Linked DNA regions of Homo sapiens. The protein of the gene in region 2 purifies or fractionates together with the protein of the main gene of each other region. This does not show direct contact. Each region holds a gene or a part of one and is shown on either strand. Other genes may lie near its edges.

The links.
Region 1: the proteins of PARD6G (region 2) and LLGL2 purify together in Homo sapiens (affinity purification with mass spectrometry; 5 studies listed by BioGRID and IntAct, with this or other methods). This does not show direct contact.
Region 3: the proteins of PARD6G (region 2) and LLGL1 purify together in Homo sapiens (co-immunoprecipitation; 2 studies listed by BioGRID and IntAct, with this or other methods). This does not show direct contact.

What each region holds. Positions count from the first base shown.
Region 1 is NC_000017.11:75,570,613-75,575,709, reverse strand, and holds the end of LLGL2 (LLGL scribble cell polarity complex component 2), read right to left. Parts: intron 4,761-5,097; coding exon 4,610-4,760; intron 4,044-4,609; coding exon 3,927-4,043; intron 3,813-3,926; coding exon 3,646-3,812; intron 2,697-3,645; coding exon 2,432-2,696; intron 2,230-2,431; coding exon 2,079-2,229; intron 1,759-2,078; coding exon 1,730-1,758; intron 1,600-1,729; coding exon of another isoform or gene 1,517-1,599; exon of another isoform or gene 1,504-1,516; intron 1,498-1,503; coding exon 1,450-1,497; intron 1,258-1,449; coding exon 1,215-1,257; intron 1,101-1,214; coding exon 1,042-1,100; intron 840-1,041; coding exon 832-839; coding exon of another isoform or gene 804-831; 3' UTR 501-803; downstream 1-500. UniProt on the Homo sapiens protein: Part of a complex with GPSM2/LGN, PRKCI/aPKC and PARD6B/Par-6, which may ensure the correct organization and orientation of bipolar spindles for normal cell division.
Region 2 is NC_000018.10:80,237,432-80,244,554, forward strand, and holds part of PARD6G (partitioning defective 6 homolog gamma), read right to left. Parts: intron 1-7,123. UniProt on the Homo sapiens protein: Adapter protein involved in asymmetrical cell division and cell polarization processes. May play a role in the formation of epithelial tight junctions. The PARD6-PARD3 complex links GTP-bound Rho small GTPases to atypical protein kinase C proteins.
Region 3 is NC_000017.11:18,228,512-18,235,634, forward strand, and holds part of LLGL1 (lethal(2) giant larvae protein homolog 1), read left to right. Parts: intron 1-1,429; coding exon 1,430-1,527; intron 1,528-3,983; coding exon 3,984-4,065; intron 4,066-4,160; coding exon 4,161-4,291; intron 4,292-5,266; coding exon 5,267-5,425; intron 5,426-5,501; coding exon 5,502-5,664; intron 5,665-5,761; coding exon 5,762-5,897; intron 5,898-6,137; coding exon 6,138-6,192; intron 6,193-6,327; coding exon 6,328-6,482; intron 6,483-6,577; coding exon 6,578-6,801; intron 6,802-6,958; coding exon 6,959-7,026; intron 7,027-7,123. UniProt on the Homo sapiens protein: Cortical cytoskeleton protein found in a complex involved in maintaining cell polarity and epithelial integrity. Involved in the regulation of mitotic spindle orientation, proliferation, differentiation and tissue organization of neuroepithelial cells.

The DNA.
Region 1 (5,097 bases), on a different chromosome or scaffold from region 2:
TTGTCTCAGACACCGGAGAACCCCACGCACTGGCCATACAGTAGGTGCTCAACGAAGACGAGTCAATAAAGATCCAGCCCATGTCCAATCTAAATAACCCAGCCCCTCCCCTGGGGAAGGCCTTTCTCCTTGGGTACCAGCCCCGCTTCAGCAGCACCCCACAGTCCTCCCTGGTGTCTGGAGGAAGCCATCAGGTCTGAGATATTGTGGGTGTCCTTCTTCTGACAGTAGGGAAAGGCCAGCCAGGGGCGGCCAGGACCCAGGGAAAAAGTCAGGCAGACTCAAGATGGTTCGTGCTTGCCATGTGTTCCCACAGAGGGAAGGCACCGCCGGGCTCAGACAAAACGAAGCAGTTTGATTCACACGGCTCCCCAAGTGGATTCTCCTGACACCGGCCCAGGCCAGGGCTGGAGCCTCGGGGGACAGGCAGGGTACCGGCTCCCACTTTCCATTCACATGGAAAATTTCTACACAATTAAAATATTAAAGTAGTGGACCAGTCAAGAGGTAATAGGTGTTTATTAAAAACTTTTTCACCCAGAGGCAGTTAACATTTATAACTTAAAACCCAGCCCACTACAAAAAGGGATGGGAGCAATAAAAACTGTGCAACATTGACCAAAGGACCCAGACAGACGAGGCCCGGGAAGGGCAGCCCAGGGGACTGGGGTCTCTCCTCTCCCGAGGCCCAGAGCAGCTGCATTGTGGAAGCCGGGATGCCCCCAGCCCCTGGCGGGGCCCTGTGCACCGGCCTCTCCGGTTGGGGCAGGGACCCCCGAAAGGCCATCAGTAGTAGTGTGTGCTCATCGCGCAGCCTGGACGCTCAGCCACTCACTCTGCTGAAGGACACAGAGGGACAGCTCAAGATCACCCTGGGCAGGACGGGGTGCCCCAGCCGCCCACGCTGAGCCCAGACATGGTGCTTTCCTGGTCATCAGGGCACGTGTCAGCCCCGTGGGACCCAGGGGAGTGGGGCCGGGGCTCTTCCTCCCAGCCCTTCCCAGCACGGTTGGCAGCTGCACTCAAGCCCAGAGCCCCCACCTCCGCCATTGCTGAGGCTGCACCCCACGGCGGCTCGATGTGAACGCCAGTTGCCGCTCCTGCACAGGCAAAGACAGGGGAGTCATGGCCTCAGGGACCTCCACTCTCAGCGCTCCCCTGAGCCCTCTGGCAGAGCCTCGGGCCCACCCCAGCTGGCCTGGGCGGTGCCTCACCCGCGGTCTCCCTCCAGTGTGCTCTGGATTTCCTTCAGGACTCCTGCAGGCCGGGTGGGAACAGAGGCCCACTGAGGCCCTTGGGGCGGCTAGCCACAGCCCTTCCACCCCCTTTCTCCGTGGGTGCCCATGGATCTGTACCCCGCCTCAGGGCAGTGGCCTGCCCAGCCTCCCTTGACCCTGACCCCCCTTCCCCACCCCTCCTGCCAGCCCCACCCTCTCCCACCCAACTCACTCTCATCACTGAGCAGAGCGCGCTCCATCACCAGGCCGGGCTGCTTCTCTGGAAGGTAGAGGCCGGGTCAGGGCGCCCCGCCTGGGCCCTCCTCGGCCTGGCTCTCTCTCTCCTTACTGAGGTCAGGATGTGGAAGCCCAGGGCCCAGGGCTGGAAGGAATGCCGTCTCTATTCCCAGCCCAAACACTACCTGCTCACTCGGGACCCTTCCCTCCCGTCCAGCCCCAGGTCTGGGCCGGGTGTGGCCCAGGTGTGCATGAGCCCAGGAGGCCTGTCTTACCCTCGCCATCACTCTGAGTCCCTGAGTTCCTGTGGGGGAAGAGACAGTGAGGACCAGGGCCCCCGGGCTCCCTGCCCGGCTCTGAGAGCCCTGGTCCCATGAAGAACAAGTCAATGGCGCAGCCTGTCCTGAGCCGGAGAGCCTGGGAGGTAAACTGAGTCCTGCCCTGGACTGCCAGCTTGCACAGGGGCAAGGGGCACGCAAAGAGGCAAGGAGAGCCGGAGCCTGGGAGGGTGGGCTGAGCTCGTGGGGAGGTGCCTCCAGCCAGGCAGCAGTGGGAGCCTCGGTATCTCAGAGAGGGCAGGGAGGGGCGGGAGGGGCGGGAGAGGCCTCTGGCCCTTTCACTCACCTGGCTCGGCTCGGGGCCTTCTTGGGGCCCGCACCGTTACCAGGGCGGTGGTTCTTGGTTTCTGCTGAATCCACCAGACACCGGGGCTCCACCAGCCACTTGGTGGAGAGAGAGAAGCGCTCAAACTCCGAGGGTGAGATCAGGTAGAAGCCTGGGGAGTGGGGGCAATGCTAGCGGCCTGGCCTGGCGGCTGCCAAGGCTGCCTCCCCACCTGGGGGAGTAGGGGCTAGTGCTCCCTCGCAGTTCTCCGCTTAAGGCCCATCCAGTCTGGCCGTGGCCACAACACCCCTGGCCACCCTTCCCGTCCGTGCAGTGCCCGGGGCCCCGACACCCACCCAGCCCGGCTCAAACACCTTGGCCATATTTGGTGAAGACGCAGGAGGCGATGCCACTGACGTCCTCCCGGCGGATGCAGCTGTAGCGCACCTGGGGCTTGAGCAGGGGCAGCGAGACCACCTGGATGTCGCCCAGGTTGGTAAGGACTGCCAGGTGGTGCTCCCCGTAGTCCTCGGCTCGACGACTGCCGAAGTGGGCCACGCTGACCCGCCGCACTCTTGAGCCCTCCAGGGCCGTCAGCTTCAACTTCAGCTTGGCACTCACCTTGGGCAGCGTGAACACCTGGGGGCGTGGGGTGGTTGTTCATGCCCATGGCCAAACCAGTTCTCCTGCCCTGTGCTGCTGCTGCTGGGCCCTCCCCTCCCCACATGCCTCCCGGTGTCCTGACAAACCCTTGGCTCTCAGATGCACAGACATGGCCTGGGAGGATGCCGAGGTCACCGACTTCCCTATCTGGATTTTTTTTTTTTTCCTCCGAGATGGAGTCTTGCTCTGTCGCCCAGGCTGGAGTACAGTGGTGTGATCTCGGCTCACTGCAACCTCCGCCTCAGGCAATTCTTCTGCCTCAGCCTCCCGAGTAGAGCTGGGATTACAGGCGTCCACCACCATGCTGGTTTTTTTTTTTTTTTTTGAGACGGAATCTCGCTCTGTCGCCCAGGCTGGAGGGCAGTGGCACAATCTCGGCTCACTGCAAGCTCCGCCTCCTGGGTTCACGCCATTCTCCTGCCTCAGCCTCCTGAGTAGCTGGGACTACAGGTGCCCGCCACCACGCCTAACTAATTTTTTTGCATTTGTTTGTAGAGACGGGGTTTCACCGTGTTAGCCAGGATGGTCTCGATCTCCTGACCTTGTGATCTGCCCGCCTCGGCCTCCCAAAGTGCTGGGATTACAGGCATGAGCCACCGCGCCTGGCCCATGCCGGGCTATTTTTTTTTGTATTTTTAGTAGTCAGGGTTTCACCATATTGGCCAGGCTGATCTCGAACTCCTGCCCTTGTGATCTGGCCTCCCAAAGTGCTGGCATTACAGGCATGAGTCACCGCGCCTGGCCCCCTGTCCTGCCTCAGTGTCCTCACACGAGACTCCCCCCTCACTTATTTCCTGTACTTCTGCAGCCCCTCAGACACCAACTGCAAACAAGACTGAGTCCCAGCCATCATTTTTGCCCAAGGTCCGAGCCTCCTGGATGTCCCGGGGAGTCCCAGGGAGACCCGCCGCTGCCCGTGTGGCACCTTGAACTGCTCCTCTGATACGACGAGCAGCTGGTGGCTTCCCTGCATGTCAGGGCTCTTCGACAGATCATGGGCCACTTCGAGGGGCTCGGGAAGGGGTACGCTGTGTCCGTCGAGCACCAGGATGCCCACCACCGGCGCCCGGTGCATCAGCTGGATCTCCTTGGCTAGGGGGAGGAGGTGGGTGTTGGGGCTGGTGAGGGGGTGGCAGGGCTGGAGCCACTCCCTGGACCCAGCCCAGGCAGCCCGAGCACCCTCTGCTCTCCCTGCCCAGCACTCACCCTGCTCTGCCCGCACAGGCTCATCCATTCTCCGCTCGGCGGGAGGCACACGCAGGGAGAAGGCATAGATGGTGCCCCCATTGGTGCCAGCCCACAGCGAGGGGCAGTGCCGGGAGCCTGCCGAGAAGCCATGTTTGGGTGTCTGACCCTTAGCGTGGGAGTCGGGTGGAGCTGGGCAACCAGGGTTTACTCCCAGGTTTTCCCTCCTGGGAGAGGCTGGAAGGCTCTCTGACAACCACACAGGCCCCAACATAGAAGACCCCAATCCCAGGTCAGCTCAGCCCTTGCTGTGATACAGCAGGGGAGAACCAGCCAGGGAGAGACACGTCATCTGGAGACCAGCAGGCTCTGCTGTCCCCGATCGTCACAGCTGCTCTAGGAGGAAGCTGTCACTTCCTCATTTACAGAGAAGCAAGCTGAGGCCCTGAAAGGCTAAGTGATGGGTCTGAGGCCATGCTTCTAAAGGGTGCTACGGCCTGGATATAAAGCCAAGGGAAGCTGACTCAGAGGCTGAGGCAGGGGAGGGGAGTAAGCAGGCAGGGGCTGCAGTCTGCCCCTGCTCACAAGGGGAAACCTCTTAGCTCCTACCAGCCAGGCAGGCAGCAGCCCCCGGCATGCCCCCAGGTCAGGGGGTGTCTGCTGCCCACTACCCCCTGCCCCCCAACCCCAGGCTGGCCACTCACTGTCCTTCAGGTAGGTGTCAGCAAAGTACAGGGTCCGGACGAAGCCTGTGAAGGAGTCCTCTGCCGAGCGAGCCTCGATCTTGCGCTGCACAGGCGCCAGCTCCATGTTCTGGAGGCCTGGCCGCTCAGCCTTGGCACTCCCCTCCTGTGCCTGCAAGGGGTGGGCCAGCCTAAGGGTCAGCTCTGGACTCCCCTCCCCAGGAACAGTGCTTCGCTCAGTGCTGATCCTTGCATCGGAAGGCAGGCCACAGCCATGCCAGCCACCTGCCAGGCCTGCGTCTAGAGGGACCCTTGTCCAAGAGGGAGGTGCCCTTGGGGGAGCCTGCCTGGGCCCCCAGCATGTTGTAGAGAGAAAAAGGAAATCACTAACGTTTACTGGGGATTACTTCTAGGATAAGCATTACAGTTACTGCCTTTCTGCTCAGGAAGCTGAGGCAGAGAGAAGCAGCGTGACCTGTCTGAGGTCACACAATGCGACCTGGACCCTG
Region 2 (7,123 bases):
TAGGCATGGGCAAGGACTTCATGTCTAAAACACAAAAAGCAATGGCAACAAAAGCCAAAATTCGCAAATGGGATCTAATTAAACTAAAGAACTTCTGCACAGCAAAAGAAACACCATCAGAGTGAACAGGTAACCTACAGAATGGGAGAAAATTTTTGCAATCTACTCATCTGACAAAGGGCTAATATCCAGAATCTACAAAGAACACAAACAAATTTACAAGAAAAAAACAACCCCATCAACAAGTGGGTGAAGGATATGAACAGACACTTTTCAAAAGAAGACATTTATGCAGCCAAAAGACACATGAAAAAATGTTCATCATCACTGGCCATCAGAGAAATGCAAATCAAAACCACAATGAGATACCATCTCACACCAGTTAGAATGGTGATCATTAAAAAGTCAGGAAACAACAGGTGCTGGAGAGGATATGGAGAAATAGGAACACTTTTACACTGTTGGTGGGACTGTAAACTAATTCAACCATTGTGGAAGTCAGTGTGGCGATTCCTCAGGGATCTAGAACTAGAAATACCATTTGACCCAGCCATCCCATTACTGGGTATATACCCAAAGGATTATAAATCATGCTGCTATAAAGACACATGCACACGTATGTTTACTGCGGCACTGTTCACAATAGCAAAGACTTGGAACCAACCTAAATGTCCAACAATGATAGACTGGAAAATGTGGCACATATACACCACGGAATACTATGCAGCCATAAAAAATGATGAGTTCGTGTCCTTTGTAGGGACATGGATGAAGCTGGAAACCATCAGTGTCAGCAAACTATCGAAAGGACAAAAAACCAAACACTGCATGTTCTCACTCATAGGTGGGAATTGAACAATGAGAACACATGGACACAGGAAGGGGAACATCACATACTGGGGCCTGTTGTGGGGTGTGGGGAGGGAGTAGGGATAGCATTAGGAGATATACCTAATGTTAAATGATGAGTTAATGGGTGCAGCACACCAACATGGCACATGTATACCTATGTAACAAACCTGCATGTTGTGCACAAGTACCCTAAAACTTAAAGTATAACAAAAAAAAAAACAACTATTTTTTTAACCAAAAGTAAAAAAAATAAAAATAAAAACAAAAAACTGGTCTGGCGATAGAGACCCTAATAGTGGTTACCTCGGGGGTAGGTACTCACTAGAAAAGGGCATGAAGGAACCTTCCTGGATGCTGGAATGTTCTGCATCTTGACCACCAAGCCGTACACTTAAGATGAGTGTATTTCACTGTAATACACTCACTGAACACAGCAGACACTGTCGTTGGGCTAAGGGGGTCTGGGACAGCTTCCTGAACAGGCAGTGATTTGAGCCCTGAGGCAGGAAGGCAAGGCTGAACTTCCACTGGCAAGAGTAGGAAAGGATCGGCTTGCTGGGAGGTCACAGAATCGGGGGGCGGGCGGGGGAAGTGGGAGGTGACAGATAGACTAGTAGTTTCACGTAGGCCACGTGGGAGGGCCTCGGTGCCCAGGCTGAAAGCATCCTGCACTACAGTGGTTTTCAAACTTTTTAATCAGCGAAAGCCTTTTCTTCCCCCAAGTGAAATGCTACACATGTATCTCAAAACCAAGCAGATCTGCTCTGGTTGGGGCTGGGGAGTGGAGCCCTCCCCTCTTAGACTCCTCTGCCACTGTCTATGAAGTATGGGATGAGTGACTGATGTGAAGGGAGAATAAGGGAGAGGTGGGGCAGGGGCCAGGGTACAGGAGAGCTCGTCCTTAGACCCCAGGAACATGGGAGCAGCAGGGAGAAGAGGGGGTCGAAGGTACCTGATGACACAGCTGTACCAGAAGTGCTCTGGTCCAGCCACCCCATTCCCAGTGGGCTGGTCCTTGGAGCACTTGAGTGTGCCCAGGCAACTCTGCAAGAGGAAGTGTGTAGGGCTGCTGGTCTACAACAGGGGTACCCTGGGCTACACTGGAGGAAGAATCATCATCTTGGGCCACACATAAAATGCACTAATGACAGCTGATGAGCTAAAAAAAAAATTACCAAAAAAAAATCTCATAAAGTTTTAGGAAAGTTTATGAGTTTGTGTTGGGCCACGTTATTCAAAGCCATCCTGTTCCACATGTGGCCCATAGGCCATGGATTGGACAAGCTTGGTCTACAAGGAAGGGGCACAAGCACCCCTGGAGCTGCTGAGCTGGCAACAAGCAGGTTCCTGGCCTATCTCTGAGCACTGAGAAACTCAGGAGGTGCCAACAGCAACAGAAATAGCTATGTGGGCTTTTAATTTCCAAAGTACCTCACCTTTTCCCCTCAGCTACAGCACTAGTGCCACTTACCTTCACAGGATACAGAGGGCAAGGCCACTGACGCCTCTCAGGGATGCCCCGGCAATGAGCCAACTGGCAAATCAATGTATCAATACATTTTAATTGGTAAAGAAAAGAAGCTTATTTGGCTCACAGTTCTGCAGACTGTACAAGAAGCATGGTGCCAGTATCTGTTTCTGGGGAGGGCTTCTGGCTGCTTCTACTCACAGTGGAAGGTGGAAGGAGAGCCGGCATGTGCAGAGATCATGTGGCAAGAGAGGAGGCAACGGGGGAGGAGCCAGGCTCTTGTTAACAACCAGCTCTTGCTAGAACTCATAGAGCAAGAACTCACTCATTACCATGAGGATGGCACCAAGCCATTCACGAGGGATCCACCTCCATGACCCAAACACTTCCGTTTAGGCTGTACCTCCAACATCGGGGACCAAATTTCAACATGAGGTTTTGATGGTCAAATATCTAAGCTATAACATTCTCCCTGTTCCCACAAATCTCATGTCCTTATGACACTGCAAAATATAATCATCCCTTCTCAATAGTTCCCAAAAGTCCTAACTTGTTCCAGCATCAGCTCAAAAGTGCAAGTAGTTGTCCCTTTCCTCAAAAAGTAATTTTCTAAATTTGCTCAACGGACCATTTCTGAACCAGTAGCTGTCAGGAAAACCCACTTGTTTTTCATCTGAATTCGACCCAAGGAACACTGATTGTGTCCCTAATATAAACAAGGCACTGCTCTTCCCACCTCCAATGCTGAGCTCTTCCTTACACAGCACGCCATTGAGAAACGCAGCTAGGGTTCTGAACTGGCCTCTGAAAACATGTGGGGAGGATTAAAGAGCCCCAAATAAGGACAAGTGGGGACTGGACCCTACCTGCTTCTGGGAGCTATGGAGACCTGGCCTAGAATCTCAAACCACCTCACACAGGCATCACTGTTGCCGATGCAGAGACTATCAGAGCAATTTCAGGGGAGACTCAGCACATTGACTGGTCTTGCGGGGTGGTGGGATGACTGGGCTGCACCGGAAACCTCCGATTTCAAGGAGACGTGAGGCTGTGGATCTGGTGATAGCTTGATTATCAAGACAAAGGACATTCCACCTCACCCAAATCTGCCCACTTACCTGACTGAACCTTCACTGGTGTTTTTAAGGCAGGGATGTTGTACGTTTTACCCCAGCACATGCCCTATGCCTGCCACAAAGTAGTTGCTCAGTAAATGAGTAAACAAATGTATGGATAAGATCAGACTCTGAAAGAATAGCTACTGAATAGAGGACTTCCCGTGAGGCCATGCAGCAAGAACCTTCTACAGTGATGCAAGAAAAATAGAACTTCTCCCCATAAAACACAAGACTAACCCTCCCAGCTGTTTCTTGCAAGCTCCAGATTCAGACAGCTGAGGGAGTCTCTCACCCTATGCACGGTGAGCTGGGAATGTGTGCACCTGTGTCCTGGTTTGTATTTCATGGCTTATTGGATCCTGAGAGGGGTGTGAGCCCTCTTCCAGCAGCCACGGACAACTGGTGGTTCCCACTCTAGACTTTGGAGCTAGACTATCTGGGTTCCAACCCCACTTATGAGCTTTATGACCTTCGGCAGGTCAGTGAAGCACCCTGTGACTCAGTTTCCTCTTCATCTGTATAGTGGGTGTGATAAACGAACCCACGTTACAGTATTGAGATGGGCATTAGTGAACTATCTGCAATTGCAATGCATTTAGGATGGTCCCTGGCCCACGTTACAGTATTGTGATGGGCATTAGTGAACTATCTGCAATTGCAATGTATTTAGGATGGTCCCTGGCACATATATGCACGTATATTGGAGGGGCATTAAGTAAATGTTATTAATACTCCAGAACACAACCTCTCTGCACAGCAGGCAACGTCCAGCCTGGGGGACTCGGGGCAGGGCCGCAGGGTGTGTGTTGGGAAGAGGCTGGGGCCTACACAGGAGCATGTACCTCCCATGGATCCCCAGGGTCATGGTGCAGTAGAAATTTGCCCAGAGGAAGTGGATTTGACATGTAAGCAGCCAAGTGAACACATCTAACCACCTGGAAGGTTCTGCTGCTGTCATGCCAGGCTCCCTTCTTGCTGCCTCTAAAGGTCATGGAGACCCCTTTATGGGAAAAGATCAGGATGCCTCTCCCCTTTGTACTAATTCTGGACGTGATTCACAAACGCCAGAGCTTCTGAGACCTTGAATGGCTGCATCTCCCAATCCTTGATATTCCTTCACTTCCCTAAAATTAGGGCCTTCTATCTGAAATGCCATGGGTCCTAGGAAAGGGCTCTACCCCCTGGCTAGCTGGGGTGCCCACCTGGAAGGCCATCAGAGTCTCCCAGGCCACAGACCTACAAGAAATTGGCAGCCTCCAGGGGCAGTGACGCCATCAGTGCCCCCCAGGCTGACTCTGCACTTGGGTCCCTGGTAAGTCTCCCTAAGATGTGACTTCCCAAATCAAGTCACTGAACCTGTTTAAGCACAGACATGCACAAATACAACAAAACTAAAGTCTTAAAAGGGTGTAGCTGACACACACAGGTGAGTCAAACCATGTCCAGGCAATTCTTAACTGGCCCACAGGAGGCAAGTGTCAGCCACCCAATGGGGAGGCCTGGCCTCAGCTCCATCCCACCGGCTGTCGCACATCACACAGCTGGAAGGGCATGTTCCTGCAGCACCATGGCAGCCAACGGCCTCAGCCAGCAGTAAGATCTTGGGGACCAGAGGAGATATGCTAACACAAAACACTGCACACCTGGCTGTCCCCAGGAGAACCTGGCCAGCCAGTGCATCAGCCAGCCCACCAACAGGCTCCTCATACCCTTGTCATCCTGGAGGGCCCAAGTTTAATGCCTGGGGGCAAGGTCACAACACTCTCAGAGCCAGTCACCCTCAGCACCATCTGCACTGATTGGAAACATTGCGAACAAGAAGCTCCCATAACTTATTAACTCCCAAGAAAACTAACAGAGAAAAAGGATTCAGGACAAAACCAGGCAGTTGAAAATAAATACACAAATAGCCAATAAATACGAAAATTTCAACTCTCTAATAACTTAAGAGATACAAATTAAAACAATGGGATACCATTTCACTCATCTAATTGGGAAAGAATGAGAAAATGCCCAGCGCTAGAAGGAGGAAAGAAGAAAGGGATGGGGAGAAAGAAACAGATGAATGAATAGATATGAAACAGCATCTATAAATTGGTAAAATAAACTTTCCAGAAGAAAAGTAGAAATACGCACTCAAAGCCTGTAAAAGTACGTGCCTTTCCCAGGTGATGTCACTTCCAGGAATTTGTTCTAAAGATCAGTAAGAATTTTGCACTGGTTTAATATAATCAATAATCTTTACATATTTTATATGTGTATATTCTATATATAATCTTTATATAAAGACTTAAAGATATTATTTACAGCACTGTTTACTGTGGAAAAAATTGGGGTTAACTTAAGATACTGGTTAGTCATGGTTTAGACATGAGCAGGAATATGATGCAGTCTTTTCTGTTGTCTAAAAATATTACTGACATGAAAAAACACTCGCAATACATGATAAGTTAGAGGGGAAGCCGGCTACACCATGACATGCCTATTTGACCCAAATTCTGTAACACAAGAATGCGTGCATCATACAGGCACACAAAAGACCGGAAGGCCAGAGGCAACATTTAACAGTGGCTCACCTTTGGACAGGAGAGCTACCAATGGTGTTGGCCCTTCTTTGTGCTTGGCTGTGGTTTCTAAATTTCCTACGATGACACTGTGTTAGCTTAGAATCCAAAAAAGCCCCATCATTATTTAATCAGGAAGCACAAATGGGATGAAAACCTTCTCCCTCAGATATAATTAACACGACAGACAATCTGTGCCGAACATAACTGTGGCACCAGCATCATGACAAGTGCCAATAAGATGACCAGAAACACCAAGAAGGGGTCGGACAGAGAAAGTTTGTTCTGGCACAGGCATCCAGAATGACTTTGTAGAAGAGGGAGCTGTCTAAGAAGGTCCTCAGGATAGGGCAGATTCTCAGAGAAAGCATTTCAGGTAGGGGAAGCCACAAACTAGGGAAACACAGGCCAAAGAAAGCGTGGGCCGAGGGCATGAGCAGCGGGCCATCTACGCTCACGTCTGAAGGAACTCGGGGCTCTGGGCTGAGCACACTGCTGGGAGCGGGGATGAGCTGTGTTTCTCTGGATTTTTCAAGCTCATGCGGACGACAGTGGAATTGACGCAATACTGACGTAGGTAAAGGCGTTGCTAAGTTCGTAGTGGCACCGTGTTGCTTGCTGTCTTCTCCTCATATGAAAATTCATCTCCATTTACCGCCCCCTGTAAACCCCTTCCGATCCCAGCACTGGCTTTTCCGCTGCATTCTAAGGTGGCCAAGGACTCTTGCTCTCCTCCACGTGAAACACCCTAACCCTCTGCGTAGCTCCTCCCTCCCCACGGCAGGTCCTGTGGAAGGAGAGGCCAAAGTCGAAGCTAAGTGGGAAAAGGGTGGTCCCATGAACAGAACTAGGGAATTGGAAGTACATACTGCAGCTGGTTTGGTGAGGAACAGATGAATCACTGGAATTCAGGTAAAAATGTTTGGAGAAGTATAAGGGCTGCAAAATGAGGAAAAGCCACCAGGTCAAGATCAAGACCATATGGCCCCTCGCGCACACACACCAGGGTCCTGTCCCTAAGCACTGGGGACTGACCATCTGTGGCAAATGGTGAATGACAAAAATTCTGAGAGAACCTAAGGCAGTTTTCCAACCCAATATCTTAAAATGCCAAAGAATTC
Region 3 (7,123 bases), on a different chromosome or scaffold from region 2:
GGAGCAGGGAGGGAGGTGACTTCTGTGTGTTTTGAAACTGAGTTGATGGGGCTCAGAAATGGACTGGACGTGGGGTATGAGGGAAGCAGATGCTGGACAGTGCATGTAACCTCCTTTCCTCGTTTGTAAAATGGGAAGGCTGTGGGGATTTGCGATGCAGTGTCCCGTCTCTGGACCCTGGTTGTAGCGAGGGACTGGCTAGACAAGGTCAGGTGCAGCAAGGGCGTGGTATTATTGGTGGGAGAGAGAAGCCCCAGCCAAATCGCCAACTCTGTCCTTAGGTGGGCTTACTGTCCCAAGGGCCCAGATGAGAGACTGAAGCTTGGAGAGTACTGAGTCTTGGAGAGTACTGTGACTTGCCCAAGGCCAGACAGCTAGGCCGTGACCAAACCAGCTGCCCAGAGGGCTCAGTCCCCACCTGGATGGGCAGAGGCAGGCAGGGAGGGAGGTTCGCGTTACAGGCTGGGAACTGGGGTTTCTTACAAATGTGCATCTTCCTGAGGCAGTGGGTCAGGAATTACCAGTGGTAAAAGTGAAAAATAAATAACAACAACAAGATAAAAGGAGTTACCAGTGGCCCACGTGGGTGTCCTGCACTGGTGTTCAGGATGGGGCTGGAGCTCAGCTGTGCAGGCTTCCCAGGGAGGGCACAGCCAGGCCAAAGACAGGAGACTGGTGCAGAAAGGGTGTGCTGTGAAAGGGGCAGGGGAGCGGGTGGGGAGCTGTTTCATCGACACTCTGGGCACACAGACCCCCTTAACACCATCTCCGCCCCTGATGGTTATGGGAGTCATGTTGCCCAGCTGTTGGCAGGTGGGGAGGTGGGAGGATGCCTTCGGGGTCCAGGCAGAAAGCTACCCCTCTCTGGGCCTCTGTCTCCCTGTGTCTGGGAGGAGTCAAAAGCCTCTGCCTAGCTGATCCTGGATGTTGTCCCTTGACCTCTGACCTCCACTCAGGCCTGTGTTTGGGGAGTGTCATGGTCATCTTGCGGGACTCCTCCGCAAGCTTTAGTCTGTGCCTCTAAAAATGGGGTGCAGAGCCCTTCATGGAGCAGGTGGGGCCTCATCAGTGCCTGCACCTCTGTGAGCCTTGCTTCACCTGTTTGTTGCTGGAGCCTCCATGCAGTGGGGCCCACATGAGCCTGTGTGCATTGAGGGGCACAGGGGCTTGGCAAAGGGCGGGCCTCTGTGGACTATGCACGCGGTACAGTCATGGTGGAGGCTAGGGGTTTAGCCACCTCCCCACCAACTGGAGGCATGATAACCCATTTCACAGTTGAGGACGCTGAGGCACAGAGCAAGTAGACCTGCCTCCTACCCCCAGTGTGTCAGCTGCAGACCCTGGAGGCTGCCTTGGGGTGGGCCTCAGGGTGGGCCATGGCAGAGGTGCCTGGGAGTGCTTACCCCCAGCAGCCCTCCCCTCCTTGCAGACTGTGGAGCATGGCTTCCCCAATCAGCCCAGCGCCCTGGCCTTCGACCCGGAACTTCGCATCATGGCCATCGGCACCAGGTCTGGGGCTGTCAAGATGTATCCTTTGCAGGACAGGTGTTCAGGGTCTGTTCAGGACCACCTGCCTGTAGTTCCCTGTGCTCTGGGGTCCCAGTCTTGGCAGTGTCCAGCTCGAGAGGAGGACAGAGGTGCTCTGATGGGCAGTAGTGGGGGCTTCTGCGGAGGTTGGCGTGGCTTCTGTACCTGAGACAACTGTGCAGAGATGATGGGGTCCTTTTGCTGAGAGACGGGTGGTGGGGGGTCAGTTTGCAGTAGCACAGCTGTCCCTTGCTACGTGTCAGCCAGCCAGTTACCTAGGCGACCCTGCCATCGTCCCAGCAACTCTGGGGAGGCCAGGCAGAAGGCTGGGCTATGATACCCATGGAGGGTGGCAGGTGGGCTGGGGGCCCTGGTGAGCTGATGCACACATGTGTGAATGTGAAGACACATGTGTTCAGCAAAGGGGCCTGGGGGCAGTGCCAGGCTCGGCATGGTGAGCACAGCACGGCCCCCACCTGGATACTGGCTGCTGCACAATGGGCTGTGTGAGCCACACAAAGCGGGCATTTTCCCTGCAGGCCTGGGGTGGGGGTGGGGGCAGGCCGGCAGCTCAGTGTCTCCTTGCCAGCCCTGGAGAATCCCACCCCAACTGCTCTTGGGGAAGCCGAGGTGCCAGGGTCTGGCTGATGGCGGCTTGGTGAGGGGTGCTGACCCCTACCCCTCCTGTGTGGCCTTCTGGGTTTCAGTATCCTGGTTTCAGACATCAGTTCCCAGAAAATGTGTCAGTGCTGGGAAAGGGGAGGGTGTGGGATGGGGGTCTCCTCACCCCAGGACTGGGGGCACTGATCAGGCAGGGATGGGACTCTGAGCCTGTGGTTTGTGAGCTCTTTGCCTACTCTGGGGAGTGTGGATGGGCTGAGATGTCCCCTTCTCTCCCATGGCCCCAGCGGCCTCTGTTGGTGAGTGTGGCAGTGCTCTGGGCCCCACATGCTCCGCTGCCTGGCCTGCTGCTCCCACTCCTGTGGGTGCTGCGCTGCGTGCGCACATGTGTCCCTGCAGCCTTCAGGTGTCCCTCCTGTGTTGGGGTCTCCAGTGCACTTGTCCTCAGGCTCAAAAAGAACCTGAAGTGCAGATGAGGAGACTGAGCCTCAGAAAGGAGGCTGGAGCCCGGGGTCCTCTTCCCTTTTTCCCCTGACTGCCACTGCCTGGAGCCCCTTGGGTTGGGAAACTGAGGCTGGAGAGGGCCAGCCCTGGTCACTAGAAGCTGCCCCTCCCCCTGCCAGGCCAGCCCCATCTCCTTGACGACCCTGGTTCCCGCCCAGCTGCTCCTGTCCCCTCTTTTGTCCCTTCTTCGGAGTTTCTCGCCAGGCTCCTGTAGGGAATCTGAGCTCAAGCTCCAGGCAACGGCTCCTGTGTTGTCACCGGGGCAACGTTGCTGACTCCTCCCTGCACCCTCTGTCATGGGGCCCCCTCAGGCCCTGCTGTCCACCATCAGCCCTGGAGTTGCCGGGACTCAGGCACTGACACTGGGCACTTCAAGCAGGTCATCCACCCCCTCCAAGTCTGTGTGCTCATCTGTGAAATGGGCAGGCTGGAGTCTCTCCTCCCTCATGATGGCAGTTGTTGGCTGCCTGCTTTGGAGGGAGGTGGGTTTTTTTTGTTTTGTTTTGTTTTTTTGAGATGGAGTCTTGCTCTTTGTTGCCCAGGCTGGAGTGCAGTCGCACAGTTTTGGCTCACTGCAACCTTTGCCTCCCGGGTTCAAGCAGTTCTCTGCCTCAGCCTCCCAAATAGCTGGGATTACAGGTGCCTGCCAGCATGCCCGGCTAATTTTTGCGTTTTTAGTAGAGACGAGGTTTCACCATCTTGGCCAGGCTGGTCCTCAACTCCTGACCTTGTGATCTACCTGCCTCGGCCTCCCAAAGTGCTGGGATTACAGGAGCGAGCCACCGTGCCCAGAGGAGGTGGGTTTTCTTACCCATGGCTGAAGTTTGGCCTGAAGCTGTGGGAAAAGGCAGCCTGGACTCTTCTGCCCCCTGGCTTTCTTGTCCAGGCCTGGCCTTGCACCTCTGGCCTGCCTGATCCCATCCGGCAAGGCGCAGCTCCCAGAACCCATAGACACACGGAGCTGAAGTGGAGCGGAGCCCCATCCTCTCACCAGGCTGAGGCCAAGCCTGCTGGGTGTGTTTATTCTCACTTGATCTGCAACAGTCCTGTAAAGTGGGAGTCACTGGCCCAATTTACGGGAAGTGAAGGTCCTATAGCAGCACCTGACTTGCAGGAGTGAGTGGAGCCTGCACACTGATCTTGGGGATACTGTAGGGGTGCAGAGTGGGAGCTTTAGGGAGGGGGCCTCCGTTCTTCAGGGAGGACTCCTGGATGGTCAGGCCCATGCCGGGGCCCACTGGAATAGTCCGGGTCAAGGAGGAGCCTTGGGTGTCTTCCTCACTGTGGTTTGCTGGTCTATGCCTATTTCCACCTTGACCTGCCACCCTCAGCTATGGTGCACCTGGCGTGGAGTTCACAGGCCTGCACCGGGATGCAGCCACTGTCACACAGATGCACTTCTTGACCGGCCAGGTGAGCCTCTGCTTCCCACTAGCCAGCTCCCTGTGGCCCCCATATCTACTCATCCCCCTAGGCCAGCCTAGTTTTCATCTCTGCTCACACACCAGGGCCGCCTCCTGTCCCTGCTTGATGACAGCAGTCTGCATCTCTGGGAGATTGTCCACCATAATGGCTGTGCCCACCTGGAAGAAGCACTCAGTTTCCAGCTGCCCAGCCGGCCCGGCTTTGATGGTGCCAGGTACTGGAGAACTTGGCTGGGGCCAGCCACCGGGCAGGGAGGATCTGGGGGAGGCTGTGGGAACCTGCTGTGCAAAGGCAGCATGGAGATGGGCAGCGGTTCAGGGCGGGATGCCTTGAGCTGGGCCTGGGTCCCAGGCTGCAGCTGTTGGACCCTGCTTTACTGAGGTATACTCTGAACTTTTCAGGTTAAATGGGAGGTTTGGGTTGAGTCCGACGTGAGCAGGTAATTAACATTGTGAGCAGCAGGAGGTACATGCATTATATGCCAAACTTCTAGGACCTGAGGCCTGGCACTACACTTACTGCAATGATGGGGGTGTCTAGGGGTTTGGGGCAGGGCCTAAGCCAGTTAGTAACAGGAAGGGTCCCCTGGCCTCTTCAGTTGTGGGTGGGAGACAGGCCTTTCTGTGCATAGGCAGGGTTGAGGGCAAGGAGGGTCCCATGGGCTGTGCTTGGTAAGGCGCTGGCAGCATGCCCCAGCTGAGTGAGAGTGTGGGGCATCTCTCTCCCCAGCCCTGCCTGAAATAGCTGGAAAAGGGGAGTACCAACCCAGGGATGGATTCCTGATGCCTCCCAGCTTCTGCAGATGGGGGTATCTGGGGCCCTCCTGCGAAGTCAGGAGATGTCTGAGCGCTGGCAGCGGGATTCCTAGGAGGGGCTCAGCGGGGAGCTCCTGGTCCTGGCTTGGGCAGTGCCCTGGTTCCTGCTGTCCTCTCCTGGTGGGTGGGAGGAGCTGGGAGCCCAGTCTGCAAGACCTAGGGACCCTATTTTTATCCATCTCCCTGCTGACATCCTGATGAATAATTGAGCGGGCTGATGATGATGCATGTCTTCCTGGGGTGGCTCTGTAAGTAGGCCCTGGTGAGTGCTGTGGGGCCAGTGATGAGTTATCAGCAGTGGCCCAGCCCCTCACACCCCACCTGAGCAGGTGGATGGGCTTGTACCCTCACTCCCTTCCCCTTGTTCCCTGCAGTGCTCCGCTCAGCCTTACCCGAGTCACAGTGGTCCTGCTGGTGGCTGCCAGCGACATAGCAGCCCTGGGCACTGAGGGCAGCAGTGTCTTCTTCCTGGATGTTACCACCCTGACCCTGCTCGAGGGGCAGACGCTTGCCCCAGGCGAGGTTCTGCGCAGGTAAGAGGCCGGTGGGCTTCCCAGCACCCACTGTGTGCCCGGGAAGTTCTGCTGGCTCACCTGCCTTCCTCCACAGCGTGCCAGACGACTACCGCTGTGGGAAGGCACTGGGCCCCGTGGAGTCACTCCAGGGACACCTGCGGGACCCCACAAAGATTCTCATTGGCTACAGCCGGGGCCTGCTGGTCATCTGGAACCAGGCCTCGCAGTGTGTGGACCACATCTTCCTGGGGAACCAGGTATGTAGGTGAGGCCTGTGTCCCCTCAGCCTGGGCCCCTTGTGCATGCCCACCATGGCTCATGCCTGCCTGCCTGCCTGCCCCTGCCTGCCCGCAGCAGCTGGAGAGCCTATGCTGGGGGCGTGATAGCAGCACTGTGGTCAGCTCACACAGCGATGGCAGCTATGCTGTCTGGTCTGTGGATGCCGGCAGCTTCCCAACGCTGCAGCCCACGGTAGCCACCACACCTTACGGTGAGTGCTGGGGACACCTTAGCCAGAGGGTGGTGATGGGAGGGGGCACCACTGAGCCAAGCCAAACTGGCTGAGGAGGGACTTCCCCGAGGGGGTGGTCTGGGGGCAGTGTGTCTCCCGCCGACTTCCCGGGGAGGCAGGAGGCAGCTGTAAGGTAGAGAGCAGTGGAGGGCAGAGCAGGAATGGCAGAATTGCTAAGAACCACCAGTGAGTCTGGTCTGACGCTGTCCCACCCCTCAGGCCCCTTTCCCTGCAAGGCCATTAACAAGATTCTGTGGCGGAACTGTGAATCTGGGTAGGTCGAGGGAGTGGGTGTCCGATGTGAGTTGGGTCTGGCTAGGGGGCTGGAAGGGTGGGCTCTCCCTAGGTTGTGCAGTATGTGCTCTGGACCCAAGTGGTTCATGGCTCGCACACCTCCCTCTGCACATAGGGGCCACTTTATCATCTTCAGCGGTGGCATGCCCCGTGCCAGCTATGGTGACCGCCACTGTGTAAGTGTGCTTCGAGCCGAGACATTGGTGACGCTGGACTTCACTTCCCGCATCATCGACTTCTTCACAGTGCACAGCACACGGCCCGAGGATGGTGCGTGCCCTGCCGTACCCTACCCTTTCCCAGCCCCACCTGGTGCCCTCTGCCACCTATGGCTGTGCTCACCCCATACTCCCTCCGTCCCACAGAATTTGATGACCCCCAGGCCCTGGCTGTGCTGCTGGAAGAGGAGCTGGTGGTGCTGGACCTGCAGACTCCTGGCTGGCCAGCTGTGCCTGCCCCATACCTGGCCCCGCTGCACTCCTCTGCAATCACTTGCTCGGCCCACGTGGCCAGTGTCCCCGCCAAGCTGTGGGCCCGCATTGTGAGCGCTGGCGAGCAGCAGAGCCCCCAGCCTGTCTCCAGTGCCTTGGTGTGTGCGGCGATCAGGGGGGTCTTACAGGGTGGAGTCTTGAGGAGGGGGAGAGTTTCAGTTCTAAGCCCGGAGGTCAGAATGTGCCATACTCGGGGTGAGAGGGAGAAGATGTTCGTCCTAACCTTGTGCATACATCTCTGCCACCCCCTCCCAGAGCTGGCCCATCACTGGGGGCCGAAACCTGGCCCAGGAGCCGTCACAGCGAGGGCTGCTGCTGACGGGGTAGGTGTGCGTGCTTATGTGGGTGAGTGGGCCCCTTGCTGTTGGGGGAGAGCCCATCCTGGGCCTGGTGGGTGCAGAGGTGCCAGGAGACTCAGGC